2 separate regions of the Homo sapiens genome follow, and region 2 is linked to region 1. A link means that fine-mapping ties the variant in region 1 to the expression of a gene that starts in the linked region. Tissue or cell type: whole blood. Region 1 holds a variant in brackets; the other region holds the start of a gene. All regions are shown on one strand. Distances are from middle to middle.

What was found. PIP is the estimated chance that this variant, and not a neighbour inherited with it, causes the effect.
Region 2: it holds the start of IGFBP2, and the variant in region 1 is fine-mapped to the expression of IGFBP2 in whole blood (TOPMed, PIP above 0.99). The same link has a PIP of 0.9 or more in blood mononuclear cells.

Annotation. Positions count from the first base shown.
Region 1 is chr2:216,650,123-216,658,122 of GRCh38, reverse strand. The region is part of intron 1 of IGFBP2 (insulin like growth factor binding protein 2); the gene reads right to left. Among named protein-coding and RNA genes, the nearest start is that of IGFBP2, 21 kb to the right of the region's middle. The variant T/C (reference allele first, on the strand shown) is at 3,906.
Region 2 is chr2:216,629,158-216,637,157 of GRCh38, reverse strand. IGFBP2 (insulin like growth factor binding protein 2) reads right to left here and starts at 3,738. Exons shown (of 4, transcript NM_000597.3): 1 at 3,193-3,738. The coding sequence starts at 3,634.

The DNA of each region.
Region 1 (8,000 bases):
AACAAAACATACAAACTCCGGGTACATTTTGTGTGTGGCAAACAATGAATGCCCCTCAATGAACCCTGGGGATTTCCATGTCTTACAGCCCAAAACAAGAATTACGTTGATGACGATGATCTTGGGACATCAAAAAGGGGAGGGAATTAAAATTCTACCTATTCATCATTTTAAAAGACTTTTATCCAAAATTGTTGAACTCCAGGAAAAAAAAAATTTAAATGTTAAATGTATAAACCTGAAACCTGGAAAAATATTTTATTTAGAATGGTTATTCCCACAGGGGCTCTGGGGAGCCTGGGTTGTACCATAAATGAAGCCAGCACAGATTAAATTGTTCCAGCAGCCCGGCAGCCCAGCACCACCGGCAGGAAAAGGCCGATTTAGCGTGCGCCTCCAGGCTAGGTTGGAGTCCTGCTCCACCATGTCTAATCAGACCCAGGCACCAGCCCACAGCTTTCCTCATCCATCCTGCCCTGCCCTCTGTGCTCCTCCACATGGAGAGCAGCAGACACCCAGGGACCCAGAGAGGCAGGCTGAGTGAGTGCCCCTGCTCAGCTGCCTGCCAGGTTCCCAAGAACAGGGACGCTGAGTCACCCCACCGTGCGGCAGATTTCTTCAGCGCCACCAGGTCCACACCCTCCTAGAAGAGCCCCCCTTCCCTCTTCAGATGGACCCCAGAGGTCAGAAACAAAAGGGTGAAAGAGAAAGGCCGGGGAAAGTCTGAGATCAGACAAACCTGGACAACAAACAGAAGAGATCAGGTTCAGTCAACTTTCCATCTCAACACTGACCTCTAACGCAGCACACAGATGCCGTGCAGCGCACGCACTCATCCCCAGCCTCCCTGCCTCCGCCCCGCTGCCCTTCCCAGACAGGCCTCTCTGTCCCCAGACCTGAGTGGGACCATCTCAAGCTCCCTGCCCCTGCCCTCTGCAGACACCAAAAACACAGGAGGAGAGCAAAGTAGCTAGAAAGTCTCCCCACTCCCACCACCTGCATTGGAACATAGAGAAGAGCCCTTTGACTCCCTCCCAGCTACTCAGGATCAAAATGAGAAAGACAAAATGAAGTGGGAACCTCCAGTTCGCCCTCACCCGAACCCTTGGTACCTGAGATCACCCTTGGCATCACCCTGCTTACCGCACCCTACCCAGCTTTGTGCCCACAGAGGCAGGAAGGGTTTCTGGAGACCTCGACACCGCATTCTGCTCACAGGGTGTTAGAGAAGACAGGAGCTCTGGGAGTCTGCTGGTACTGCACCCTGCCACCATTTCTGGAACTCTCCAATCTGTGGACATGAAGTCTGTGATGCTCAGAGGCTCACCTGGCTCTGCCCTCTTGGGAAGTGGCTTGGGTGAAGGCAGACAGTCTCTATTATGGCTATAACAACACGTTGTCTGGTTGGAGACGGGAAAGGCAGCTCATGTGTACCTCTATCCATGAGCTTCTGGGAAGGAGCCGCTCACCCGAACTCAATGCCTGGAACATCCAGTGTACTCCAGATGTTGGGCAGCATTCCTGGCCTCTACCCACCAGAAACCAGTAGCACCCTCCCCAGGTTGGAACAACAAAAAATGTGTCTTCATTCGTTGCCAAATGGCCCCGGAGAGGCAAAACTGCCCAGGGTGAGAATCACTCTTCTGGAGTCAGGCTTTTAGCCCAAGACCTGTAAGCTGATAGCCCATTGCTGAAATGGCTCCAGGCCCCATATAAAGCAAATCTAGCTCCACTATATTCCGCATCCACGGCTAAGACCCCTCCGCTACCCTTCCATCTGCAGCCACAATAGTCCACAGTTTCTTGGGGGCAGGGCACAGGATCTTCCCTGGGCTTCCTAGAGGACTTTCAGCCTGCAGCTCCCCATCTTCACGAAGCCCTCTTGTACCACAGACAGTGGCCAAAGAACCATCCCTTGGCTGCGTCCCAGAGGTCAATCCAACATTAATCCTCAGAAGAAGGCCCTCTGCAATCTCTGGAAACACATTTGAAAAAGGAGAGGGGCACACACAGATAAATGTGCATTCGGGCCTGAAGGCGCCAGGCAGGGCCAACTTGTCCATTGGGCTCTGGAGGCACAGTGCCTAGGACATATTTTTATTTCTATTAACATCAGAAAAAAAAAATAACTTTTAGGTTAAAAAGTCTTACTATATAATATTAATACATTTGCATTTATTAAACAAGTTATAAAATATGGTTTTTTGATTTTTTTTTTTTGTTTTTTTGAGACAGAGTATCGCTCTGTCACCCAGGCTGGAGTACAGTGGCACGATCTTGGCTCACTGCAACCTCCGCCTCCTGGGTTTGAGCAATTCTCCTGCCTCAGCTTCTCGAGTAGCTGGAACTACAGGCATGTGTCACCACGCCTGGTTAATATTTGTATTTTTAGTACAGACAGGATTTCACCATGTTGGCCAGGCTGGTCTTGAACTCCTTGCCACAGGAGGCCCACCTCGGTCTCCCAAAGTGCTGGGATTATAGGCATGAGCCACCACGCCTGACTGTATTAGTCCATTTTCACACTGCTATAAAAAACTGCCTGAGACTGGGTAATTTATAAAGGAAAGAGCTTTAATTGACTCACAGTTCAGCATGGCGGGGAGGCCTCAGGAAACTCACAATCGTGGTAGAAGCCAAAGGTCCGGGAAGCAAGGCACCTTCTTCACAAGGTGGCAGGAAGAAGTGCCAGGTGAAGCGGGGAAGAGCTCCTTATAAAACCATCAGATCTCAGGAGAACTCACTCGCTATCACGAGAACAACATGGGGGACCCACCCCCATGATTCAGTTACCTCCACCTGATCTCTCCATCAACACCTGGGGATTATGGGGATTACAATTCAAGATGACATTTGGGTGGCGACACAAAGCCTAACTATATCACCTTGTCTCTGCTAAAAATAAAAAAATAGCCAGGCATGGTGATGCACACCTGTGGTCCCAGCTACCTGGGAGGCTGAGGTGGGAAATTACTTGAGCCCAGGGGTTAGAGGCTGCAGTGAGCCATGATCATGCCACTGCACTCCAGCCTGGGTGACAGAGTGAGCCCCTGTCTCAAAAACGAAAAATAATAATTTTTAAATTTTAAAAATATATGTTTTTATAGAAGGGCCCACAGAGGCAGTGTCCAGGGCCCACAGATGTCATATGCAACCCTGGCTCCAGGTCCCAGGAGGCTGGGGTCAACTTGGCAGTGTTCCTCCAGGAGGACAAAGTTGATTTCCTGCCCTGAGATGTCCCAAACTCTCTGAGGTGAAGGTCAAGTTTGTCCACCCTCACAGAGGCCACCTGGATTCAAGGGTATGTTTCATTCCATTTCTTTATTGATCTCAGCAGTGCCAACGAACATGCCAATAAGATGAAGAAATCCACAGGCCTGGTTTGCTGATGCAAGGTCTTTTAAAGATGGTTTAACAAGACCATGCATCAGCATCTGTTTCTTTCTCAGGAAGAGGCTTCTGGACTCAAATCCCGTAGCCAGATCTGAACTCCACATCTTGAAGTAGAAGCCCAGGGAAGGGAAATGAAAGAGTTGACCAGGCAGAGATCAGAAAGCATTGTAGGCTGAGAAAAGCCTGCATTCCTTGTTACTGTTCCCAGCCAAAGAGATTCAAACCCCAAAATCTAACTGCCTGAGTTGGAATTCAAGCTTTTACTACTGAGCTGTGCAGCACCAGACAACTTTCTTAAGCTCTCTGTGCTTCCATTGTTCATCTGTAAAAGGACAAACAGTATGCACCTCCTATGGGCAACTGGGAGGATCCAAAGAGATGCTGCCTGCATCTACAGAGAGGGCCTGGCACACAGTAGGCACACATGGGGTTAGCTCTTAGCCACTTCCATTTCCTGCCTACCAGGAAGTACCCACATAGCGCCCCTCCTCCCCTCAGTCAGACAAGGGCAT[T/C]ATCACATGTTACCAAGTTCTTCCCATATATCCTCTTATAGGCTGCAAGAACAATCCACAGGAAAACATTCCAGATGTCGAACTCCAGCTAGAGATGGAATTTGCCCTCAGAACAAAAATACCAAGTTGTATTTTTTTTCTGCCTAAGAGAGTTAAGTTCAGAATAATATTTATTAAGCAACCACTTATGTATGCAACTCCATGGGCTATGGTGCAAAGGTCACTATAAGAAATGGTTCTTAGCAACCCCAAATGACATCAATGGAAAAGGCTCATGGGCTTAGAAATGGTTGATAGAAACCTCCAAGGCCCCTGAAGAGACTTTCCCTGTAGATTAGTAAGCATTAGCTCTTCTTCCCTACATAGCACCTAGGGAAATGGGTCAACACAGAAGCAAGGGATTTCACATATAGAAGGTCAAGCTTTTCCAAAGAGAAGTCAGGGAGATGACAGACAACCCCAGAGCCATTAGTCGGGGGCTTGAAGGGCAGGGGAGAACTCCCACCCCTGCCTTGGGTAGACTGCCACACCTTTCTACCTAAGACCCCTAGAGGAGAGCTGGAGATGAGGAAGGCAGATGGGATGAAAAGAAATGGATCGTTGTCCCATTTTACAGATGGCAAACCTGAGCCCAGATGGACTACCATTTGAATTCACAGGAGCAAACAACCTCTCTGCCATTCTTCACAATTATCATGGGGTCCCTACATTGTCTTTTGGCCCACCCTTACTAATTTAGCCAAGGAGAGCAGCTGGAAGCTGACAGCCCAAGAGAAAGAGCCTTTATTGTTCACTTCTATGCATTCATACCCAGGTTTTCAGACCTAATTTTGGCACAGCTCATTTTTCCAATGTAATCCTGTTTGTTGCATCAATGATCTTACTCAACAAATCAAACTCTTGTGTTTGATAGAAACGGACTCCCACAAAATCTCATTTTCTCCTAGCACAATGTTCTGACCTCAGTGCTCTATTTGGAAATTGGTGATTCCTGATCTAAGAGAGACCTTAAAAAGCTTTCTTAGGAAACTAAGCCCCAAGAATCTAAAAGCACCTCCCTGGTCCTTCCTCCTCAGAGTGTGTGGCCCCGGTCCTTATCCAGACCTGGTGAGGAAATAAGACCTTTTCCCTACCTAGAACAATCACATCTTCCTAACAGCTCATGTGTCTCTCTTCTTTCTTCTTTTCTTTATTCTGAAGAAAGACTTACCATTTTCCAGCCTTCTCCTCCTATCTCATGATTATCTTAAAATCTAAGAGCAGGGTTGGGAAAGAGGAGTACCACAGAGATGATCTAAGCCAACCCTGAACTTATCATTCCTCCAATGAACTCACCTCTTGCAACAGGTAATAGCATTCCAAGCCTTTCAAGAGTTAATTCTGAGTAATGGGCCAGGGGAATGAAGGCTGGCCGCAGCTTCCTGGTTCCACCCTAGCTGGGCAGAAAACTCACATGGCTCCGTCTTTGTTAATTTCTCCCAAAAGGCACTTAGCCTTGACATATGTTGGGCAACAGAATAAATACTAACCACCATCCTCCTCCCCCTGCTCTCTAGACGACTCCATTAATATCCATAGCAGTGGACGATTCATTAACAAACTGGAATGAGCAATGAACCCAGCAGTCAAGAACCCTGAATGCCAGCTTTGCCCTTTGAGATTCACTCACGAGTCAGAACCTTTAACCTCTCTGAGCTCTAATTTCTCAAGTCTGAAAAATGATATTAACAATTCTGCTAAGGGGCGGGGCGCGGTGGCTCACGCCTGTAATCCCAGCATTTTGGGAGGCCGAGGCGGGCAGATCACCTGAGGTCAGGAGTTCGAGACCAGTCTGACCAACATGGAGTAACACCGTCTCTACTAAAAATACATAAAAATTAGCCAGGCATGGTGGCGCATGCCTGTAATCTCAGCTACTCAGGAGGCTGAGGCAGGAGAATCACTTGAACCCGGGAAGCGGAGGTTGCAGTGAGCCAAGATCGCGCCATTGCGCTCCAGCCTGGGCAACAAGAGCAAAGCTCAGTCTCAAAAAAAAAAAAAAAAAAAATTCTGCTAAAATGATGGCTGCTGTTAAACAAGACATGGTATTTTTACCCCTGACAGCCCAAGAAACTCTCACTGTGGCCAAAACCAAGCTTTAGAAAAAAATGTGTGGTGGCCAGGCATGGTGGCTCATGCCTGTAATCCCAGCACTTTGGGAGGCTGAGGTGGGCGGGTCATTTGAGGCCAGGAGTTCAAGACCAGCCTGGCCAACATAGCAAAAACCTGTCTCTACCAAAAATACAAAAATTAGCTGGGCATGGTGGCACATGCCTGAGGTCCCAGCTACTTGAGAGGCTGAGGCACAAGAATCGCTTGAACCCAGCAGGCGGAGTTCACTTCTTGCAGTGAGCCAAGATTACACCACTACACTCCAGCCTGGGCGACAAAGCAAGACCTTGTTTCAAAGAAAAAGGAATGTGTGAACAATCAATTTCTTGAATGGGTAAATAAAAGTTATATCTGCCATGTGAGGGGAAGGCTAGGTAATGTCTGATTTGTAGAATGGCCAAATGCATGGAAAAAATGAGTCATGAGAGTTCTGCAATATGATCTATTGCATATTTCTTCTAAAGCTTGGTTTTGATTGTACAAATTTTATACATTGCTAAATATCAAAGCTCTCTGCCATTTAATAGAAGTCCTTAAGCAAGAATGAATTTGCCTAAATTACTTTAACTTTGTTTACAGAATTTAGCGGGAGGGACAAAGGGAAGGAGGTCAGGCAGTAGCTCATAATCACCACGCATGCTCAGTTGAGACAGGGCTCATAAACACGCCAGCACATACAAGAAACAGCTTTTGTTGGAGAGAATTTGAAGCCAGTCCTCTTTGGATGGCTGATGGTGGTCACCAAACTCCATCTAGCATGTGGCCACTATGTTCAATAGCACAGCCCACCAACAGGCTGGGATTAGTAATTCAGGCCATGCTGGTGGGAGGGAGGGAGGCAGAAGTTAGGAAAGAGGAAGGTAAAATGGGGGTTCTATTTGTTACTTCTTTAGCTAAAGTTTAACCTGAGGTCCTGAGACTTTGTGGGTGAGTGACACTGTTTATGTGTCTTCCCCTGACTTTTTTTTTCAAAAGGTCAGAGGGGGCAGTGGCCTCTCACACTGGAATTCTGAATAGTGTGCACAGATGTCTGTCGCGGTATAGGCTGGCACTCAGGACACATTCCAGCTTAGTTAATGACATCACCCCAACTGGTCCATCTATCTCCTGAGGACACCCAGCTTCATTCATTGTAAACTCCCTTCCTATTCCTTCTCACCCCCTGAGCCCTTCCTTCCTGCAAGGGAGCCAGCCATGCAACACCTGATATCCTTCCATCCTTCAGCAACAGACCAGTCACTTCTGAGCATGGTTTTCCAACAGGTGGTCCCTCCTCTCCCAGTTTCCTTTGTGGTAGTAAATAACTGCAAACAGCCTTCTCAGATGTTTCAGATCCACAAGTCCCCTAGGTTATAAGATCACACGACTGCAAGAACTGGCCTTTCTCTTCTGAGAATCATCTCCCTCCACCTGCAGCTACCACAGGCCAATCACCCAGCTGAGTGCGGAAGAGCTCAGTGACCTCTGTTGAGTGGCAAGCCCAACAGGCACAGGCTACTGCCCTTCCACGGTGACAAAACACCTACAGGAGATGATGCACCACCAAGGGAGGGCAGAGAGCCCCCACCTGGCCGATGAATCCCCTCCACGTCAAACCACTCTGCAAACTCTTTTTGGATTTCCTTTGGAGCACCAGCTTTTGGGTTCGAAGCCTTGGCCAAGCAGTCCCAGTGTGGGAGGAAGGACTGAGGTTCGATCCTGACTTCACCACCACCCCTGGGATTCTGAGTGACGCTAAGCAGGGTGTTCAACTTGCGCAGGTGTCAGTGTACTCATCTGTAAATTCAGGGAATTAGACCCAGTCAGAAGTTCCCAAACATAGCTCTTCATCAGAAATCATCTGATGAGCTTGCTAAAAATAAGAGCCCTGGACCCCAGCCCCAGAAAGTCAGAGGCAAGGACTAAGGAATCTGTATGTTGAATGATACCTCTCCTCTCAAGCTC
Region 2 (8,000 bases), 21 kb after region 1:
CCACTCATTTCCCTAGTCTATTTTACGACTTTGAACTCAGTATGCAAATTTATGCAAGACGAGATGCAAAGCAGTACTCTGAGCCAGAAGTCCCATTGCTTTTTCCCCCTTTTTTTTTGAAGCTGCACTGAACCACTGTAAATCAGTGCTTGCCTCTTCCCCCCTTTATTCTTCCCCGGCAACTGCAGATGCAGAGCCTCCCCAGGCCCGCCCGCCCGCCCGCCCGCCCGCCTGCCTGCCTGCCTGTCTGCCCGCCCTGGGACTTTGAACGACTACACATTTCTGTAGCACCTTTATACGTGCAGCGGGCCAAACGGCCACTCGGGCGGCCCCGCCCCTCAGCATAATCCCCTGCATTGTACACGGTAGGGAAGGAGGCTGGGGAGATACTGAAGGAACCGGTCTAGCCCAGCCTTAATTCTGAAAGGGCCTGGACTGGCCCAACCCTGTTCCCTCCTCGACCCTGACATTTCTAGGCACTTCTATCCACTCCACCACCAAACACATACACACGCTTTTAGAGTCCCAACTTCAAGCAGATCTCAGGGTCTCCTTTCGGTTTTTCTTCTAGGCCTACCCACCCCTTCCCCCAAGACTGACTTCTCAGTTTCTTTGAACCAACAAGCCCCAGCCCATCGTCCCCGTGGGATACAGGCTCACCACCACCCACTCCTTCCACCCACTGATGTGCCCACCCCCACCCCTGCATCCTTGCCATCCCCAGGAAGCCAGCAGCAACACAGCCCCTGAGTCCCGGGAACAAAGACAAAAGAGCTAACAGCAAAGCCGGAACTGCTGAGGTTCGCTGCCTCGAAATAAGAGGGTATGTTTAAAATTCTCAAAAGCAACCTGCTCAAAGAGGAATGCAGGCTGGAGGGGGGGTGCTCATTCTTCGGAGAGGAGAGAAGACGGGACGGGAGATGGAGTGGGAGGCAGAGGATTCAGTGCTAAGATCTCCGTCTGGGCCAGGCCCCACCCAACTCGGACCCAGCACTCTCCATCCAGTGACTCCAGTCTCTGCCCCAGCCTAAGACCCTCTCCCACACAAAAGCCTCCAACCTTGACCCCTTTTTCTCCTGCACCCTTGCAAGCTCAGGCTCCTTCCCAAAGTGCTCCCCTCCCCCAGCCCGACTCTTTCTCAGGCACCCCTGACATTGGTCACTTCTTTTGAGTGCACCCACTCAGCTTCCAGCCCCACCCCCCACCTTCCACCCCTGCTTAACATCCCCTCTTCCCAGGCCGGTGCACAAAAATGCGGAAGGCGTCTGGGCACTGGGGAGGAGAACGCAGCTGGGGCAAGCTGGCGGAAGGGAGTCCCATAACCAGGCAGAAAATCCAGAGTGACATTCTTCCCATGAACTCACCCCATTGTCCCTGGCCTCCCCTGACAACTACCCCCCACCCCCTTCAGGCTCCAGGGAAAAGTGAATGGGAGAAAATCTGCCGCATCTGTTCCTGGCTAAAGACCCTAACCGGCTTCAGGGATTTGGGAAGTAGAATTGGTTTTCAGGCTTAGAATAAGACGAATGAAGAGTAGGAAAAAAAAAAAAGTAAAACGTTAAAGAAGGAAAGGCATCACACACTTTATTAAAACAGTCAGCAGCCAAACCATCCTATGAACTTAGAGGCCTTTCAAAAAGTTCACCCTGCTGAGGAAGATGTTTAGTTTGTCAGAGTTCAGCTCAGAAACTGCACAGCACCTCCCCGGTGGACCACGAGGGGTGATGAGGAGGAACGCATGACTGGGGGACAGGCACCCCGCAGTGAAAGGATTTCGTGGGGGCTTTTTCCTTTTATTGTTACTTTCTAAGAGAAGCAGGAGGGAAGGGTTAACTTCCAGGCAGGCTAGGGAAGGAAGCGAGCCGAGGGAGAAGAAAGGGACTGAGAGGCTCCACTCAGAGGAAGCCCTAACTTGCTCTGTACTCCAGAGCAAAATGTGCTAGAGAAACAGAAGAAAGATTTCAACTCTGACCCCTAATTCCATTCTCAAGGAGAACAGGGAAAAAAACAATAGCCGACCAGGAGAAGGGAGGCGGGTTGGTGCATGGGGTGGGGGGCTTACGAAGACCTCAGAAGCTAAAAAGCAAGCATTCTTCTTTTCACTTTTTCTTTTTAAGTTTGAGAAACTTAAGACTCACTTGCTTTTTCAACAACAGCAGCAGGCAGTGGACACATTTCACCACTGTCTCCAAGAGGAAAGAAAATAATTACAGCTTCCTCCCGACCACTGGGGCAGGAGGCTTTCGTAATTAAAAAAAAAAAAAAGTAACCTCCTTAGAGCCTGGTTGTGTCCCTCAAATAACTTTTTGGGAGGGATGAGGGCCCCTGAACAAAGAATATCGGGTCCTCATTCTATCCTACAGGAAAGGGTCCCTCAATTTAAGATAGGGGCGGGGGTGGGGGGTGGCAACGCATCTCTCCTGCCTTTCGATCTGGGGCCCAGATGCGAAACCGCACAGCCTGGCTGCCCCCGTCCAGGGAATGCAGCCGGCGATCGGGCTTAAGTTACATTGATTCAGCTGCTAGGAGACCCCTCGCCTACCAAATGCCTCCCTTTTATTTTTCCATTCAACGTGGTAGCAAGAGCCCTGCTCGTTCCCTATGGAGAAATAGTAGTGGTGGTTTTCATTTTTCTCCTAAGCGACTCATCCTACAAAGTACCAAGTCCTTTCTTTCCAACTCACAACCCCAGTAGAAGGAAGGGCCCCTTGGGACGCCGGTGCCTCCTCCTAGCTCCCTCTCCTCTTCCAAGGTTCCTGGTGTCACTGGCACCCCGCAGCCTCCGCCTCCCAGCAGCGATCCCACCAGGACCCTTGGGTCCTCAAGCAGTGCCCCAAATAAGATTCGAGTTCCTACTCCCATGGATCTGACCACCGGCCCCCTTCTCAGCAAATCCCTCCTCCAGAATAGAAGTCTGGGTCCGTTCCACGCGGGTAAAACTATGGCAGCAGGGATGCCTTTCCTCTCCCCATTCATCCCCACCAAATGAGTCGCCAGGGCTCTTCCACTTGCTCTAACTCCAGTTCCCCTCCCCGGGCCTGACTTCCGCGTCCCGCTAGCAACAGTCCCCCTTGATTTGGTCCAAGGTCTCGGCTCTGCCGCCCCTAAAACCGTCCGTAAGGTCCAGCCGCCCGTCGGGCTTCTCCGCTGCCCTCCAAGTTTCTCCCAACTACTTGTTCCAGACCGCGTTACCTGCAACCTGCTCCGGGCTGGCGCCATACTCGGCGTCCCGGCGCTTCTCACAAGTGCCCTCGCCCATGACCAGCGCCTGCAGGGGCAGCTCGGAGCCCGGGTGGGGATAGCAGCGCAGCCCCTGGCCGCAGCGCGGGGTGTAGACGCCGCACGCCTCGCCCTCCAGCCGGGCGCACACCGAGCAGCAGCCGCAGCCCGGCTCCCGGACGAGCTCCGCGCATGGCATGCGGGCGCCTCCGGCCACTGCGGCCACCGCGGCGGGCGGCGCAACCGGCGGGGGCCCGCAGGCGGCCAGGCGCTCGGGTGTGCAGGGCGGGCAGCGGAACAGCACCTCCGCGCGCGCCCCGCCGCCGCCGCCACTCGCGCCCAGTAGCAGCAGCAGCAGCGGCAGCAGCGGCGGCGGCGGCAGCGGCAGCGCGGGGCAGCCCACTCTCGGCAGCATGCTGGCGGTCGGCAGCGCGGCGCGGCGGGCGAGCGAGCGAGCGGGCGGGCGGGCAGGTGGCACGGCCCTGCGAGCGCGGGAGCCGCCTCCTCCGCTTCTTCCTCCTCCCTCGCCGCCGCAGCCGGGTCCTAAAGGGCCGGCTTCTCCCCGCCCCCTGCCTTCTCCCCTCCCCCTTTTGGAGACCACTCCCTTCCCCCCCGACACTCCCTCGCGCCGGCAAGTGAGTGCGCGCACGCCCGCTCGCCCACCTCCGCGTTGGCTGCGGGCTCTGGGGGTTCCCTGCTCTTCCCGGGCCCCGTCCCTCCGCACTCTTCTGGCCTGACTATGACTCCTGAAGGAGAATACGGATAACTCGCGGGTTTGGGTAGGACCGGCGTGGCGGTGGAGAAGAGCGCGTGCTTTTGTCTGCTCTCAGTTCAGTTCGCGAGGACTTCGTTTGCGCGCTTCCCCTGTGGCCGGCACTGGGCTAACCGCTGGGGAACACAAAAGACATAAGGCTCCGTTTTGACCTTCAAGTAGATTTCAGTCGGCTCATACCAACTCCTTCCATCCTGGGGTATCACCCACCACTGACACGTGGCTTGGAACAATGACTTCTTGTTGGGTGGGTCCTGCGGAGTTTCAGACCCGTCTAGACCAAGCTAGACCCAAACAGCCCCGAATGGTCTTAGTGACTATTGCAGTTTTCCAAACCTGGGAGCTCGTGACTACAACCTATGAGAACCCTAAGTGCCCCGCAAAACCTGCCCCCTTCGTCTGCAGACCCCCTCCCTTCTCCGCCCGCTAAAATAATCCCTTAGCACCCTGGGCCCCCACCTACAAATCTCGAGGCACTTGTTGCAGGACAGATCCCAGAACACTCAGTTGCAGGGGTCTTGGAGAGGTCAGATCAGCTCTCCAGGTGTGACAGACCCGCTCTGGGGTAAGGCCATTTATGGCTGTCTTCAATAATGCAGATGGACAAGCATGACCTCCTTTCATTGTTCTGTTTGATTTACTGAGTCATCTACCCAAGCTGCCCCCAACCCCCATCATTCCAGGCTGGACTCAGCCATAATCAACCATCTCCTGGGGTGTGACCCTAACAAAGACCCCTGTCAGAGAGATTCCTTGGGTGACAGGTGGACCATTAAGCTGCCTCCACCGCAGGTTTCATCTCCCTATACCTCAGCGCCCCTCTTCCCCCCAGACCCCTCCACTCTGGCTCTTTCTGACTTCAAGGCTCAGAGCCTGTTTGATTCAGTTCAACAGCTAGTTAACCCAATGGCCACCTGGCTCTGAAGGTGACCTAGATGCCTCCAGGAAGGCAAGTACCTGGTCTTAAGACGCCAAGCTGGGAAGAGTTATCGGGAAAGACTTTGGTAAGATAAAAAATAAATAAATAAATGTTTATCAGAGGCTTTGAAGAAAAGAAATATTTTGGTAGAGAGGTGATGTGGTGGTTGAGGAAAGGGGAGTTTCTTGGGTGAGTCGGAGCTGAAATTGAAGCTTGTAATTCTACCAGAGGAAATGGGCGGTTAGCAAGGGCACAGGCAGAGGGACCACCTGAAGCAAAAACACAGAAATGGGGCCGGGCGCGGTGGCTCACACCTGTAATTCCAGCACTTTGGGAGGCCGAGGCAGGTGGATCACCTGAGATCAGGAGTTCAAGACCAGCCTGGCCAACCGTGGCCAACATGGTGAAATCCCATCTCTACTAAAAATACAAAAAATAGCCAGGCACGGTGATGCACGCCTGTAGTCCCAGCAACTTGGGAGGCTGAGGCAGGAGAATCGCTTGAACCCAGGAGGTGGAAGTTGCAGTGAGCCAAGATCGCACCACTGCACTCCAGCCTGGGTGACAGAGTAAGAATCAGTCTCAAAACACACACACACACACACACACACACACACAGAGAGAGAGAGAGAGAGAGAGAGAGAGAGAGAGAGAGAGAGAAATGGGAAAATGAGTTTGGGGATCAGAAAGTCCACTTCAGCCAGAGTGCAGGATGCTTGCAGAGAGCAGCAGGGGAGGCAGGAAATCCAGTTGACTGTGGCGCTTTGGCTTAATATGCTGGGCAGTAAGGATACAGCATCCATGTTTGAGCAGAGGAAGAGATGGACAGAGCTGGACTTCTGGAAATCATTAGCACTATGTAGAGTGCCGATCTGAAAAAAAAGTAAAAAAAAAAAAAAATCGTTAGCACTATGTAGGGTGCCGATCTGAAAAAAAAAAAAAAAAGAAGTAAAAAGCACTATGTACAGTGCCAATCTAAAAAAAATAAAAATAAGACACAGGAAGGATCATGGTCATTCCACCTTCATTCTCCCTGGTGTCTCCTGCCTGCTTTGTAACGTGTTTCTGTTGGTCCCACCCACTGAGCTCCTACAGAGTAGGCACAGGGTCTAGCACAACGCTGTCCAATAGAAATCTACTGCAAATCGCAAACGTGAGCACATGTGCAATTGTAAATTTCTAGTAGCCATATTAAAATATAGTAAAAAGAAATAGATGACATTTATTTTAATAATATTCTTAATTTGGCGGTATATCCAAAATACTATCATTTCAATGGGTAATCAACACTAAAATTAATGAGAGAGTTAACATTCCTTTTCTTATACTAAATCCTCAAGTTCTGATGTGTATGCTATACAGCACATTTCAGTTTGAAGTAGCCAAAATTCAAATGTTTGATAGCCATGTGTGGCTAGGTAGCTATCAAATTGGACAGCCCACAGGTCTAAATACTGCCTGGCACCAGGTAAGCACTCAATAAATATTTGTTGAGTGAATGAAAAGTACAGTCTCTCAAAATATTCCTGGCAGGGCCCCTCATTCTCTTTCTGTCTTAATTGCAATGCCCAGGAGCTGGGAATGAAAGGCTGTGATGAGTCTATTAAGAGGCTAAGAGTGGCATTGATTCATTCATTCCCATGCAGCTACTCACTTATCTTTTGGGATTCATTCTCTTTCCACCTCCTTTTAAAGTTCTTGATCTTTCAGCCAAGAGCAGTGGAGATGAGCAGGCAAAGTGATGCTGACTTGACAAATGCAAAGTACTCAATGATATTTCACTTTCTAATGAGCCTGAAGGCCACACCCAATTCTTTTCTCCTAGTTCCCAGGTTAATGGCCAATTTTACCCTTCCCCACCCTAAATACACGCAAACACATAACAAAATAATCCCATATTTTTAAGGCTTTTCCTAACCTCTCCTGAGCCTCACTCAGAATCCCACTCCCCAAAGGCCAGCTGCTACAGAGGCTTGAATCACAGAGCATCCTCAATCCATTGAAGCCTAGAGAAGTAGGGGGACTCAGCCCAGAACCCAGAGCTGGTTACTGGCTGGCCTACAACTTAACCATTTTGCTTATTACTGTAGGCCCAGGGCTAGAACGGTGCCTGCACAGAGATACTCAAAGAATATTTGTTGAGTGAATCCAGGTTCTCCGCTTGTTGTCTCTGGCTTTGCCCATCCCATTGTTCCTGGAGCATTCTTCACTTTAGATTTCTCATGAGTCCTCTGCAAAGGTATGTCCTCAGGCTTGAGAGCCTGTCTGTGCCCAGCAGTGAGGATTGGTTGAGAGATGGGGACAGGCTAAGACTGGTTTTCTCCCTTCCCCTTAATCCCTGCCTTTTTCCATCTCAACCACGTTTTATAAACCCCACCCTTACATGGTTTACCGTAACTAGGTACCACCTGTACTATTATTTACATAATTTTTTTAAAGTAAGGCAATTCACTCTTTTTTTTTTTTGCTTACGATCATTTTTAAAAGAAATTGTATATCACTACCATAAATGGAAATGTAGTATTGATGGCCATCTATAGATGGTAACCATAAAACACAATGAAAACAAGACAATGTTATTTGATTCGAGCTGGATACTGTTGCCTGCTGAAGCTTCTGAAGCTGGCACACTCTTCCCAAGTTAAGAAAGATGAGACAATTTAGAAGAAGCATTCAAGTTAAGTCAAACCCAAGCTGAGATTTTCTCCACTAAGTCATCAGGAGAGGAATGTTTTTTAAAAATATTTTATTGAAATATACATGCAAAAAAAAGTAGATAAACCAGATAAATATCCACAAATTGACCGCACCGTATAACCAGCTCCCAGATCAAGAAGAACATTGGCCAGGCACAGTGGCTTACGCCTGTAATCTCAACACTTTGGGTGGCTGATGCAAGAAGATCACTGGAGCCCAAGAGTTCAAGACCAGCCTAGGCAATATGGTGAAACCCCGTCTCTACAAAAAATAAAAAAATAAGCCAGGTGTTGCGCATGCCTGTAGTCGCATGCCTGTAGTCGCAGCTACTCAGGAGGCTGAGGTGGGAAAATCATTTGAGCCCAGGAGGTAGAGGCTGCAGTGAGCTGTAAT